Homo sapiens: one gene and its partner. The protein of the gene in region 2 interacts with the protein of the main gene of each other region in a biochemical or structural test. Each region holds a gene or a part of one and is shown on either strand. Other genes may lie near its edges.

The links.
Region 1: the proteins of GSTM3 (region 2) and SERPINB5 form a complex in vitro, tested with the Homo sapiens proteins (one study listed by BioGRID).

The regions. Positions count from the first base shown.
Region 1 is NC_000018.10:63,486,693-63,493,986, reverse strand, and holds part of SERPINB5 (serpin B5), read right to left. Parts: intron 7,042-7,294; coding exon 6,904-7,041; intron 4,641-6,903; coding exon 4,523-4,640; intron 3,374-4,522; exon of another isoform or gene 3,255-3,373; intron 1,035-3,254; coding exon 892-1,034; intron 1-891. UniProt on the Homo sapiens protein: Tumor suppressor. It blocks the growth, invasion, and metastatic properties of mammary tumors.
Region 2 is NC_000001.11:109,733,253-109,738,148, reverse strand, and holds the end of GSTM3 (glutathione S-transferase Mu 3), read left to right. Parts: coding exon 1-58; intron 59-397; coding exon 398-493; intron 494-581; coding exon 582-692; intron 693-979; coding exon 980-1,078; 3' UTR 1,079-4,212; downstream 4,213-4,896. UniProt on the Homo sapiens protein: Conjugation of reduced glutathione to a wide number of exogenous and endogenous hydrophobic electrophiles. May govern uptake and detoxification of both endogenous compounds and xenobiotics at the testis and brain blood barriers.

The DNA of each region.
Region 1 (7,294 bases), on a different chromosome or scaffold from region 2:
AACAGGCCCTTAATTCTTCCCATAATGACTTCCAGTGATGTCAATGAGTAAGCCATACTTTGTTTTTTCACAGCCAACAAGTGCCTGAAAGCATCTGGTCTTGTTGTTTGTTTGTTTGTTTGTTTTTCTTGAGGTGGAGTTTCACTCTTGTTGCCCAAGCTGGAGTGCAGTGGTGCAGTCTCGGCTGACTGCAACCTCTGTCTCCCAGGGTCTGATTCTCCTGCCTCAGCCTCCCATGTAGCTGAGATTACAGGCACCCACAACCATGCCCAGCTAATTTTTGTATTTTTAGTAGAGACAGGGTTTCACCATGTTGGCCAGGCTGGTCTCCAACTCCTGACCTCAGGTGATCTGCCCTCCTCGGCTTCCCAAAGTCATGGGATTACAGGCATGAGCCACCACGCCCAGCCATCAAAGCATCTTATAAATTATAAATTAAAATCCCAGAACAATATACTTCGCTATCAACCGATAAGGAAATGAGATGTTAGAGAAGTTAATCAATCAGGAACAAGATTCCTAGATGTCAAGGTTTCATGATAATCCAAAGTCCTCTGATAACAGAGTTTGGTCTTTTCCTTTTCTGCTAAAGTTCTCAGATGTTTGTAGCTATTTTTCAGCTGGTGACTTAGCTTTCCTCGCTGGGTTACAAATTCTATAAAGTTTCACTCAGCTCAGATCCTTGAAGACATTATGGAAAAGAGGAGGGGGGGCCTCTGGATTCTGGCTCTTTTTGTACCACTTACCTTCCAGCTGTTCATCTCAGGAAAGGCACTTTGCCGGCCGTGCCCTCAGGTTCCTCATTGGAATGGATTTATGCCCCACTCTGTCCCTATCATTTTTCACATCTATAATTGGGCTCCTTTTACTGCTACATGCTGCCCCACATACCTTGTTGACTCTGAAAGGACATTCTTTTGTTTCTGATTCAGAAAATTTCTTCATCCACTTGCCAACAAAGTAGGCAGCATTAACCACAAGGATTTTGGTCTGGTCGTTCACACTGTTGTCAGCTAAAATGTTCTCAAAGTGGCCTGCAACAATTTTAGGAAAACACAAGTAGCAGAATTATTCTTCCAAACTACATCTGAAATTCACATGCATATTCACTGAGTATTTACCACTTCATGGAGTCACACCATGTAAGGCCTGATGGTTCCAACCATCAAATTTCAGAAGGACTCCTTTCTCTCCTTCTACCTTGACACAACCAGATCTACCAAAGAGGTCAGCAGAGGAGAATGAAGGAGCAGGGAAGAAAGGAAGAGAAATAAGAAGGAAAGCACAGCTACCATTCTGAATGCCTATTCTGTGTCAGGCAGTATACAAGCTATTTGATACACATTATATATATTTCTTCCTACTTTATGAATGAGGAAGCTGAGACTCAGCGATGATAAGTCACTTTCAAGGATGATATATAAACAAGGGTGGATTCAGGATTCAAAGCCAGCTCTTTCTGACTCCAAAGCCTGTGCTCTTGAATGAAAATACGTAATCACTTTCTTTATGGCAGAATTTCACATATATTATCTCAGTCTTTTCACAATGGTCCTATAAGGCAAAGATCATTATCTCCATTTTACAGTGCAGTAAACTGAGGCTCAGAGAGGCCAAGGAGCTGTTCTAGTTTCCTCAGCTGGAAAACATGTCTGAAGGTTGTCCCCTTCACCCCACAGCTCTCCATCCACTCTCTCAATTGCACTCCTTGCGGGCAGGCTGATTGCCTCAAGGTCAACTGTAATCACCATAGGGCTCAATCACAATTGCAGTTATTATAAAGCTAAATCCCAATAGCCAAAACAATTCAAGGGGAGTGATCCCTTAATAAAAAGAACTCCTCACATTTGAATAGCCCACAGGTTTTTTATAAAGGGTTTTCATTCACCTAATCTCCAATTTTCAGACCAATGTTCAGGGCCCACTTCACAGGCCTGTGACCCCTGTGTGAAGGACCCTGCACTTGGTTTAATGTTCAGCTGTCACTACCTCAAAATTCTTAATAAATGTTTAAACAAGAAGCCCAGCATTTTTACTTTTGCCCTGGACCATGCAAATTATGTAACTGGTCCTGCCAATGCTATATAATATGTTAAATATATATTAGTGTTATTGAAGAAACCTGAAGAACAAAGAAGTGTGGGAGCCGGTAAACGACAGAGCTTCAACTTCAACCCTGAGCCTCCCATTTCAAACTCAGAAGTCTTTTCATGGCTGGATGCGGTGGCTGACACCTGTAATCCCAGCACTTTGGGAGGCTGAGGCGGGTGGATCACCTGAGGTCAGGAGTTTGAGACCAGCCTGGCCAACATGGTGAAACCCCATCTCTACTAAAAATACAAAGATTAGCTGGGCGTAGTGGCACGCACCTGTAGCCCCAGCTACTTGGGAGGCTGAGACAGGAGAATCCCTTGAACCTGGGAGGCGGAGGTTACAGTAAGCCAAGATCGTGCCGCTGCACTCCAGCCTGGGCGACAGAGCAACATTCTATCTCAAAAAAAAAATGAAAGAAAGAATGGCATTCACAGCAACCTAGATGGAGCTGAAGACCATTATTCTTTTTTTTTTTTTTTTTTTTTTTTGGGAGACGCAGTTTCTCTCTTCTCACCCAGGCTGGAGTGCAATGGCGCGATCTCAGCTCATTGCAACCTCCGCCTCCCAGGTTCAAGCGATTATCCTGCCTCAGCCTCCCAAGTAGCTGGGACTACAGGTGCGTGACACCATGCCCAGCTGATTTTTGTATTTTTAGTAGAGACGGGGTTTCACCATGTTGGCCAGACTGGTCCTGAGCTCCTGACCTCAGGTGATCCAGCTGCCTTGGCCTCCCAAAGTGCTGGGATTATGGCATGAGCCACCATGCCTGGTCTGAAGACCATTATTCTAAGTGAAGTAACTTAGGAATGGAAAACCAAACATTGTATGTTCTCACTTATAAGTGGGAGCTAAGCTATGAGGATGCAAAGGCATAATAATGACATAATGGACTTTGTGGGGTGGGGGAAGAGTGGAAGGAGGTGAGAGATAGAAGACTACACATTGCACACAGTGTACACTGCTTGGGTGATGGGTACACCAAAATCTCAGAAGTAACCACTAAAGAGCTTATCCATGTAACCAAAAACCACCTGTTCCCCAAAACCTATTGAAATAAAACACAATATAATACAATTTTAAAAATTAAATCAGGTAACATGTGCCTCATTTTACAGTTCAGTAAATTGAAGCTTTGTGTCCAAATATCAGTTAGTAAGTACCAGTGTCTGGATTTGAACCTAGGTGCTGAATGACTCCAGAGACCCTGTTCTTCCCATGTTCTCATCCTGCAGTTACTGTCCTGTTAGAACTTCCTCAGTCAGTACAGAGACAGAGTAGCTGGGGGCGCCAGTCATTCTCGCAGGAAGTGGGTCTCCCTTGCCCCGGAAGTGTATCCCTCCCTAGACAGCAGCGACTGCCTAGGCTTCATTCTTTCATGACTAGATTCGGCCCGGCCTCCCAACGGGTCCCTCCAGATGCAATTATAAATATATCCACTGGGGAGGGGGACAAAGTCACTGATTTGCCCTCAAAATCATCATAACCCTAATTCTTTTCCAGCAAGGAAGACGACTCACCGGCAATTTTAAGGGAGGGACGAGGAGTCCGACGAGGGAGACGCCTGGGGGAAGCACTGAGCCGGAGAAAGAACCTAGGAGCTTCTTGGACCCCGGGGCTATCAGAGGAACGACCAGCATGGGGAGCTGCGGCACCGAGGACAAGCTGACACTACGGTTTTGTTTGGTTTGGTTTTCTTTTTTTAAGACAGAGTCTCACTCTGTCGCCCAGGCTGGAGTGCAGTGGCGCGATCTCTGCTCACTGCAAGCTCCGCCTCCCGGGTTCACGCCATTCTCCTGTCTCAGCCTCCCGAGTAGCTGGGACTACAGGCGCCCGCCACCACGCCCGGCTAATTTTTTGTATTTTTAGTAGAGACAGGGTTTCACCGTGTTAGCCAGGATGGTCTCGATCTCCTGACCTCGTGATCCGCCCGCCTTGGCCTCCCAAAGTGCTGGGATTACAGGCGTGAGCCACCGCGTCCAGCCGGTTTTTCTTTTACATATGTTGCCTATGTCCCTTTTTCCTTAACAAATTTGTAAAATTTGTCAGCTGAAAGGGGCCTCGGGGATCATGAAGTTATAATCCAGTCCCTCTATTTCCAGACTGAAAAATGGCCTCATGATTGGCCCAAAGTCATACTTTGTTAGAGGCGCAGCTAGGATTCCACTAGGGCCTGTGACAGCTCGTCAGAGAGCAAGACAAAGTAAACTAACACTGAAGCATCAACAGTTTCTACCAAGTGATGAGATGATACAAGAATTGCCCAGAAATCCAAGTTGTTTACAGGCTTGAAGGGAAAGAATTTAGCTTGTGTAGTAAAAATATCCAGAGAATCCTCCAGATGTTTTTTTTATCCTTGGAGCAAACATTTATGAGATGGAAGGCCCTGTTTACTTGGTGATTGATAGCAGAACAATTAAAGGGTACTTGCCATCTGTGAGATCCTTAATTGAGTTGTTGATCTGACCTTTCGTTTCTTCCAATTTATCTTTGAAGTCAACAGTTTCCAATTCCTTTGCATACGGTCTCTTCGTAGAGCTGATGAACTCCTGAAAAACATGCAGTTCATAAAATCAGAGTCTGTAGTCAAGCTATTGCATTGTTATTCTCTTCTAACAAAAGGATTATTAAATATCAACTGCTATATGTACACTTTCAAAATTGGTAACACTATATGAATTGAAACCTCATGTAGAAGTCAGTGAATTTCTTTGTATTGAATGTTTCATTTTTTTCAATTATAAGACAATTTCAATTATTAAATGCATCTATCAATTTAATATCAGCTTTGGGGAAAACACTATGTTAAATATGCCCAATTCTCTTATGGGTTGTAATTTCAGAAACATGAAAATTTTGTATGTCTACAGATACATATATATTAGAATATAGGAAATGTATAGAAAACAGAATTATGAGCAGAAAACTCTTGTCTTTGCTGAACTAAATATCCTGTAGACCCTTGCTACTCAAACTGTGGTCCAAGGTGGTGTACAGCATCACCTGAGACCTTGTTAGAAATAAAGAATCTCAGACCCCACCCCAGACATACTGAATCAGAATGCATTTTAACAAAATTTCCAGGTGTGCCATCTGCAAATTAAGGTTGGAAACACAATGCAGGAGAGAACATAACAGGAGTTCTTATTCTAATGCTTATTTAAAATGTGCAACCCTAAACCCCATTCCCACCTTGACAATCAGAACTACCTGGGTTTAATCAGAACTACCTGGGTTCAATCAGAACTACCTGGGTGTTAAAAGGGCCTGAAGAACTTGCCCTTTTAACACCCAGATAGTTCTTATGCAAGAGATCCTCCACAGAGCACACTTGTTTGGACCTTTAACTAGTAAATTTGCAGATGCTGTGCACCTAGCAGGAGCAATGGAAAGCAGTCTTTTAAAAAATCTTTTGTAATGAGCCGAGATCATGCCGCTGCACCCCAGCCTGGGCAACAGAGAAAGACTCCATCTCCAAGGAAAAAAACAAAACAAAACTTTACAACTCCTAGTCTGGTTAAGATCATTCCAGATGTTGCATGGAAGTTCAGTGAAACTAAATATAACTTGATTCAGTGTCATGTCAGTTCACTTCCAAGCACAGGGCTTCTTGAATTTCTTCAGAGCAGCTTCAGCCTTAGCCAATTAACTTAGCTTCAGTTAATTGCAAATCAACCTTGGGACTCACTGTCACCATTGACTGACAGAACCAATCTCACCTGAAAACATTAGAAAGCCTCAGCCAGATGAAGGAGGGCCTCCATTGTCCTCACTGCCAGCAATAAAAATGTGTTAATTGTCTCTTTAATGATCATTTAGGGAGCTTCTAGAAATGTTGTATGCTCAGGCTTCAACTCACATCTCAGTTTTTTTTTTTAAATTCTTCAGATGATTGTTGGAAGAAAAATGGTTGTGTGTATGTATCTTTAAGCAACAAAAAATATACTCACAATATCTAGTAACCCATGTCCTCAAAAGATCTTAACCACAAAAATACCTACTGCAGAAAGTTGCAAAATCATGGTAAAATATTTAAAAGCTGGTAGTCTAGCTTTTCGATTTGGAAACCTTGAAATTCTGACCATCCAAACAGGAACTAAATCAACTCTGTGTTACTGAAGTACAGAGGGAAACTTCATGTAGTCTAGAATATTGTCTGTGTGTTTCAAATACAGATTTTTAAATATTACAACAATGGGTACCGTAGTGGTGTTTGTATGATTCCTTAGAGCAATGGCTAAACTTATATAACCAGAGCTGCCTGTGGAGATCCCCATCTGACCAGCCCAGCCAACAAAACTAATTTGTGACTGATGAAAATTGTGAATTCATAGTTATTATTTTTCTTACTGATTTTGAGAAACATCAGAAGAATGTGTGCATAAAAAATGAGGTGGAGAGCTTAAAACATTGTCCCAGGCCATATGCCCTGCTCTTTAAGGAGAAAGAAGTTTAAATCATTAGCTGTCTTACACTCTGTAAGACAGCTCATTGTCTATGGAGCTACATTTATTAGAGAGTTAATTACTCTGTTCTCCATTCTCTCAGAGGAAGGTAAAAGAAAGGGTAAGATTTATTTGAGAGAGAAAAGGAAAGCCCATAAGCTTCTCTGTATTTTGAGTTAGAAGATGTGACTGCAATTGATTCCCACTATACTCAACCTCTCCACTAGGATTTATTTATTTAAAGCCTCAAATCACAAGTGAACATCCTAGAAAGGAATTTCACTGAAAAAAAGTTGTAGGTCTAACAGCATGAAAATGCCACTCCTTGTAAAAAGTTAAGTCTTGCTACTTGCTTTAAACAACTTACTGTAGAAAGATTCAGAGATTTGTCTACGTAGAGCCGCTTGATTAGTTTCAGTGAGTAAAAGGAACTAAGTTTGTTTACATCCGATGTTACTGTTTGAAATCCAAAGGGTACATCTTTGACATTTTCAAAATGAAGAACCTGTTAAGAGAAAAATCCGTTACCCAAAAAGCATTGCCTCTGAGTAGTGCTGTACTGAAGTGGACACGTGATAATGACCAACGTCCTTGGGCATACAGACTCCTCCTGCCTAGTTCCCGTAAAGTAAGGCTCCTCAACCTCAGCACTATTGACATTCAGGCTGGATGAGTCTTTGTGGGGCTGTCCTGGGCACTGCAGGATGCTTAGCAGCATCGCTGACCTACTAGATGCCAGTGGCATCCTCCTCCTATTT
Region 2 (4,896 bases):
GAACCAAGTAATGGATTTCCGCACACAACTGATAAGGCTCTGTTACAGCTCTGACCACGTGAGTTTCCTTAGCACACATCTGCTGAATGGAGTATCAGAAAAAGGGGTATTTAGGAACCCAAGGGTTATCTCTGTTCCATTCTGCTGCTGCTACCTTCCCACCAATCCAGATTGTTAGAATAAGAAACAGAACTTATATTTTTTGGTTTGTTTTGTCATGTAATTCTGGTGCTGGTGCCTCTTCTTTCTAAACTCCTCTTTCCCCACCCTGCCATCCTCAAGTGAAGGCAATGAGAACCCACCTAGAGAAGGGGCTACTAAGTGTCCATCACTGGCCTGTGCCCTGATTAACTACAAAGATGATCACCACTATTCTCATTCTGTTTTTTCCTCTCAGGAAAAACTGAAGCCTCAGTACTTGGAAGAGCTACCTGGACAACTGAAACAATTCTCCATGTTTCTGGGGAAATTCTCATGGTTTGCCGGGGAAAAGGTAGGAAGAAGGGAAAAGAAGAGGATACTTCTCTATCTCTGCAGGCTACTACTCCTCAGACCTAAGCATCTTATTGCTTTTCTTCTAGCTCACCTTTGTGGATTTTCTCACCTATGATATCTTGGATCAGAACCGTATATTTGACCCCAAGTGCCTGGATGAGTTCCCAAACCTGAAGGCTTTCATGTGCCGTTTTGAGGTGACGTTTCCTGCACCTTTCTCTTATAAAAACACTCACAGGCTCCCCTGGGACCTGCAGGATCCCATAGTGGAGGATTCTTCCCCGGCTTTTGCCTAATGGGATCAATGGTTGGACACCTCTAGACCTTTAAGTCTTGGGAAGAGCCTAACTTCTATACCTTGGAGGCACTGTCTACAAAAAAATGGAGGAGGTAGACGCAGGCAACACGTGAATGTTGCTGTTCTGGTATGCATCTGTTGGACTGGGTTGGGGTCGTTATAAGATTTGGTGTATTTTCCTTTCAGGCTTTGGAGAAAATCGCTGCCTACTTACAGTCTGATCAGTTCTGCAAGATGCCCATCAACAACAAGATGGCCCAGTGGGGCAACAAGCCTGTATGCTGAGCAGGAGGCAGACTTGCAGAGCTTGTTTTGTTTCATCCTGTCCGTAAGGGGTCAGCGCTCTTGCTTTGCTCTTTTCAATGAATAGCACTTATGTTACTGGTGTCCAGCTGAGTTTCTCTTGGGTATAAAGGCTAAAAGGGAAAAAGGATATGTGGAGAATCATCAAGATATGAATTGAATCGCTGCGATACTGGCATTTCCCTACTCCCCAACTGAGTTCAAGGGCTGTAGGTTCATGCCCAAGCCCTGAGAGTGGGTACTAGAAAAAACGAGATTGCACAGTTGGAGAGAGCAGGTGTGTTAAATGGGACTGGAGTCCCTGTGAAGACTGGGTGAGGATAACACAAGTAAAACTGTGGTACTGATGGACTTAACCGGAGTTCGGAAACCGTCCTGTGTACACATGGGAGTTTAGTGTGATAAAGGCAGTATTTCAGACTGGTGGGCTAGCCAATAGAGTTGGGACAATTGCTTACTCATTAAAAATAATAGAGCCCCACTTGACACTATTCACTAAAATTAATCTGGAATTTAAGGCCCAACATTAAACACAAAGCTGTTGAAATATTGATGAAAATGTAAGAATTTTTGTGACCACGGGGTAGGAGAAGTTTCTTTAAAGACGTAAAAAGAAAAAAACCATAGGCTGCTCTGCCTGTGGAGTAGCCATTCTTTATTCTTTTACTTTTTAAAATAATAACAATCACAAAGGAAAGATTTGCCAATTGAATAGGATCAAATTCTACAACTTTTCCTAAGGCACCCACAAATAAATGACAAGTGAGACAAAAAGCACTAGTATAAAGATTATATAAAGACCTATAAATCATTAAGACAACTGAGTTTTTAAAAATGGACAAAATCCATGAACAATTTATAAAATAGAAATATAGCCAAAAATGTCTAAAAGATGTTTATGATGTAAGGAATTATCAATTACAACAGTGAGAAACCATATTTCCTTCTATCCGATGAGTAAAAAGTTTCTAAAGTGTTGGCAAGGCTTAGGAAAGTGATATGCATTTCCTGCTGGTCAAGTTGTAAATTAGTATAGCTACTTTGGAGGACAATTGTAAAATTTAAATCATATCCTATGACCCAGCAATTCCATGCTATAAAAACTCATCCATGGCCGGGCTTGGTGGCTCACGCCTGTAATCCCAGCACTTTGGGAGGCTGAGGTGGGCAGATCACGAGGTCAAGAGATCGAGACCATCCTGGCCAACATGATGAAACCCCGTTTCTACTAAAAATACAAAAATTAGCTGGGCATGGTGGCATGTGCCTATAGTCCCAGCTACTCAGGAGGCTGAGGCAGGAGAATTGCTTGAACCTGGGAGGCAGAGGTTGCAGTGAGCCGAGATCACGCCACTGCACTCCAGCCTGGCTACAGGGCGAGACTCTGTCTCAAAAAAAAAAAAAAAAAAAAAAAAAAAACATTCAAAGAGACATATACTAAGATGTTCACTGTGGCATTGTCTGTAATGACAAATAAGTGGAAACCGTGTAAATACCTGTCAATACTATGGAGTACCATGTGGCAACGGAAGAATGAGACTGAACTGTGTGAACTAACATGCAAAGATCCCCAAAACAGGCCAGGTGTGGTTGCTCACAGCTGTAATAACAACACCTTCAGAGGCTGAGGTGAGAGGATCAGTTGAGGCCAGGAGTTTAAGACCAGCCTGGGCAACATAGTGAGACCCCTGTCTCCCAAAAATTTTTTTTAATTAGCTGTGCGCAATTGCTCATGCATAGTCCCAGCTACCCAGGAGGCTGAGGTGGGAGGATCACTTGAGCCCAGGAATTTGAAGCTGCAGTGAGCTGTGTTCTTGCCACTGCACTCCAATCTGGGTGACTGAGCAAGACCCTGTCTCTTAAAAAAATAAAAAAGATCTCCAAGCATAGAGAAGAGTCTGGAGGGAAACACCAAACTCATAACAGTCTTACTGCAGGCAAGTGGGATAAAGGCCCAGACTCCATGGTGGAAGTTAAAGGGCATTTCCAAGTTAAGGCTAAGACTTGCTTTTCTAACTAAGAGAATGTGCTCATGCATTGCTTGTGTAGTAGAAACTAGTTTTTAGAAAAGAAAGCAAACTTAAGAAACACTGACTCCTGTGGAGATGACTTGGCACCACTCTCCTTTCACAGAGCAGAGTCTGAATAGTCTTCAGAGATAGGCCTGTGGGCCAGATTGCCATCCCCTATGGACCAGAAGCCAAGGATCTCTCTAGTGATGGTCAGAGGGCCCAAATGGCAGGGATACCCAGTGATGTCAGGAGGAATAGTACAGACAGAAGGTGCTAAGCAGACAATTCAACTGCCATGTTTTGCCACCCCCTGTGAGCAGGGATTAGGTGTTCAGGCCAGTATCTTGGGCATGGGGGAGCCTTTGGCCAGAAGAGGTATAAAGCTCAGAAGTTTTTCAGTCTGATAACTATTGATATAATTTCCATAGTGTGAGGGAGCGGTATGCTCTACCCTTGTGTATTTAAGGCAGGACAGAGAAATTGAGGATGCCCCTGGGGCTAGATCGATGATATGACCAGAAATCAAAAAGGGAATGCATTATTTATTGCTGTGTAACACTGTTAAGAGAGGAGGTAGTTAAGGGATGGATAGGCACATAGAGAGGGAAGGTCTCAGGAGAAGGGATAGAAAGGAACTATGTTCACAAGAACAACGGCAAGACAGTGCCTATACTGCCTCTACAGTTAATAGGAAAAACGGAAGAAGTTACCCTTAAGCTAGGATGTTGCTCAGAAGTGACCATCCCAACTTTGGTGCGGGCACAATAAATCAGCCTAAATGTCCCTAATTTAACCCAGCTCATTATAATGTCATTAAACATGACATTAGCATTGTGGTTTTAGCACCCCCATGGGTTTTGCTTAGGCACTCATGGGTAATAACCAAGATGGAGTCCCTTTGGCAAAACTTAGGCATGCACAGCTGTAGTACCCCAAGAAGAAAATGTTACTTCTCTCATCTGGGCAAAACCCACAGAAGACTTCCCAGCTTCTGCCACATAAAAGACACAGAACACAGACGCCTTACTGGCAACCTGCTTTCAAGACCCCTGTCTTTGCTGAGAGCTTTCCTTTTTCCCAATAAATTCTACTCTGCCCTACTCACTCTCCATGTCCATGTGCCTAATTTTTCGTGGTCATGGGACAATAGCCTGAACCTTGCCATACTCCAGGGGCAAAAGAAGACTTCTACACTATTCCCACAAATTTAGCAGCTAAAACAATACATGTTTATGGTCTCAAAGTTTTGTGGATTAGGAGTCTGGGCACAGCTGAACTGGGTCCTCTGCTCAGGGTTTCATCTGAAAACTGCCATCAGTGTGTCATCCAGAGCTCTGATCTCATCCCCAGGCTCAGTGGGAGAAGGATCTGCCTCCAAGTCTGTGTAATTGTTGATAGCGTCAGTTCTTTGTTCCCTGTGGGACAGAGGCCCTCCATTTCTCATTGGCTGTCGGCTAGAGCCACCTTCAGTTCCTTGCAAAAGGGATCTCCTCAACACGGCCACCCATTTCACCAAAGCTAGTAAAGGAGTCTGCTGGAAGAAGGAACACTACAGTCCTATGTAATCTGATCACAGCAGTGACATCCCATCACCTGTTCTTATTCTATTAGAAGCAAGTCACCGGCCCCACCCACACTCAAGGGCATGAGTACCAGGAGGTAGGATCATGGGGGCCATCTTAGAGTCTGTTCACCACAAGAGAAGAAGGAAGGAAACAGGAGATTGGTCCTGCAGTCCTATGAGAAAAAAATCCTGGGAAAGACAGATGACAGGAGAAAGCAGCAAGG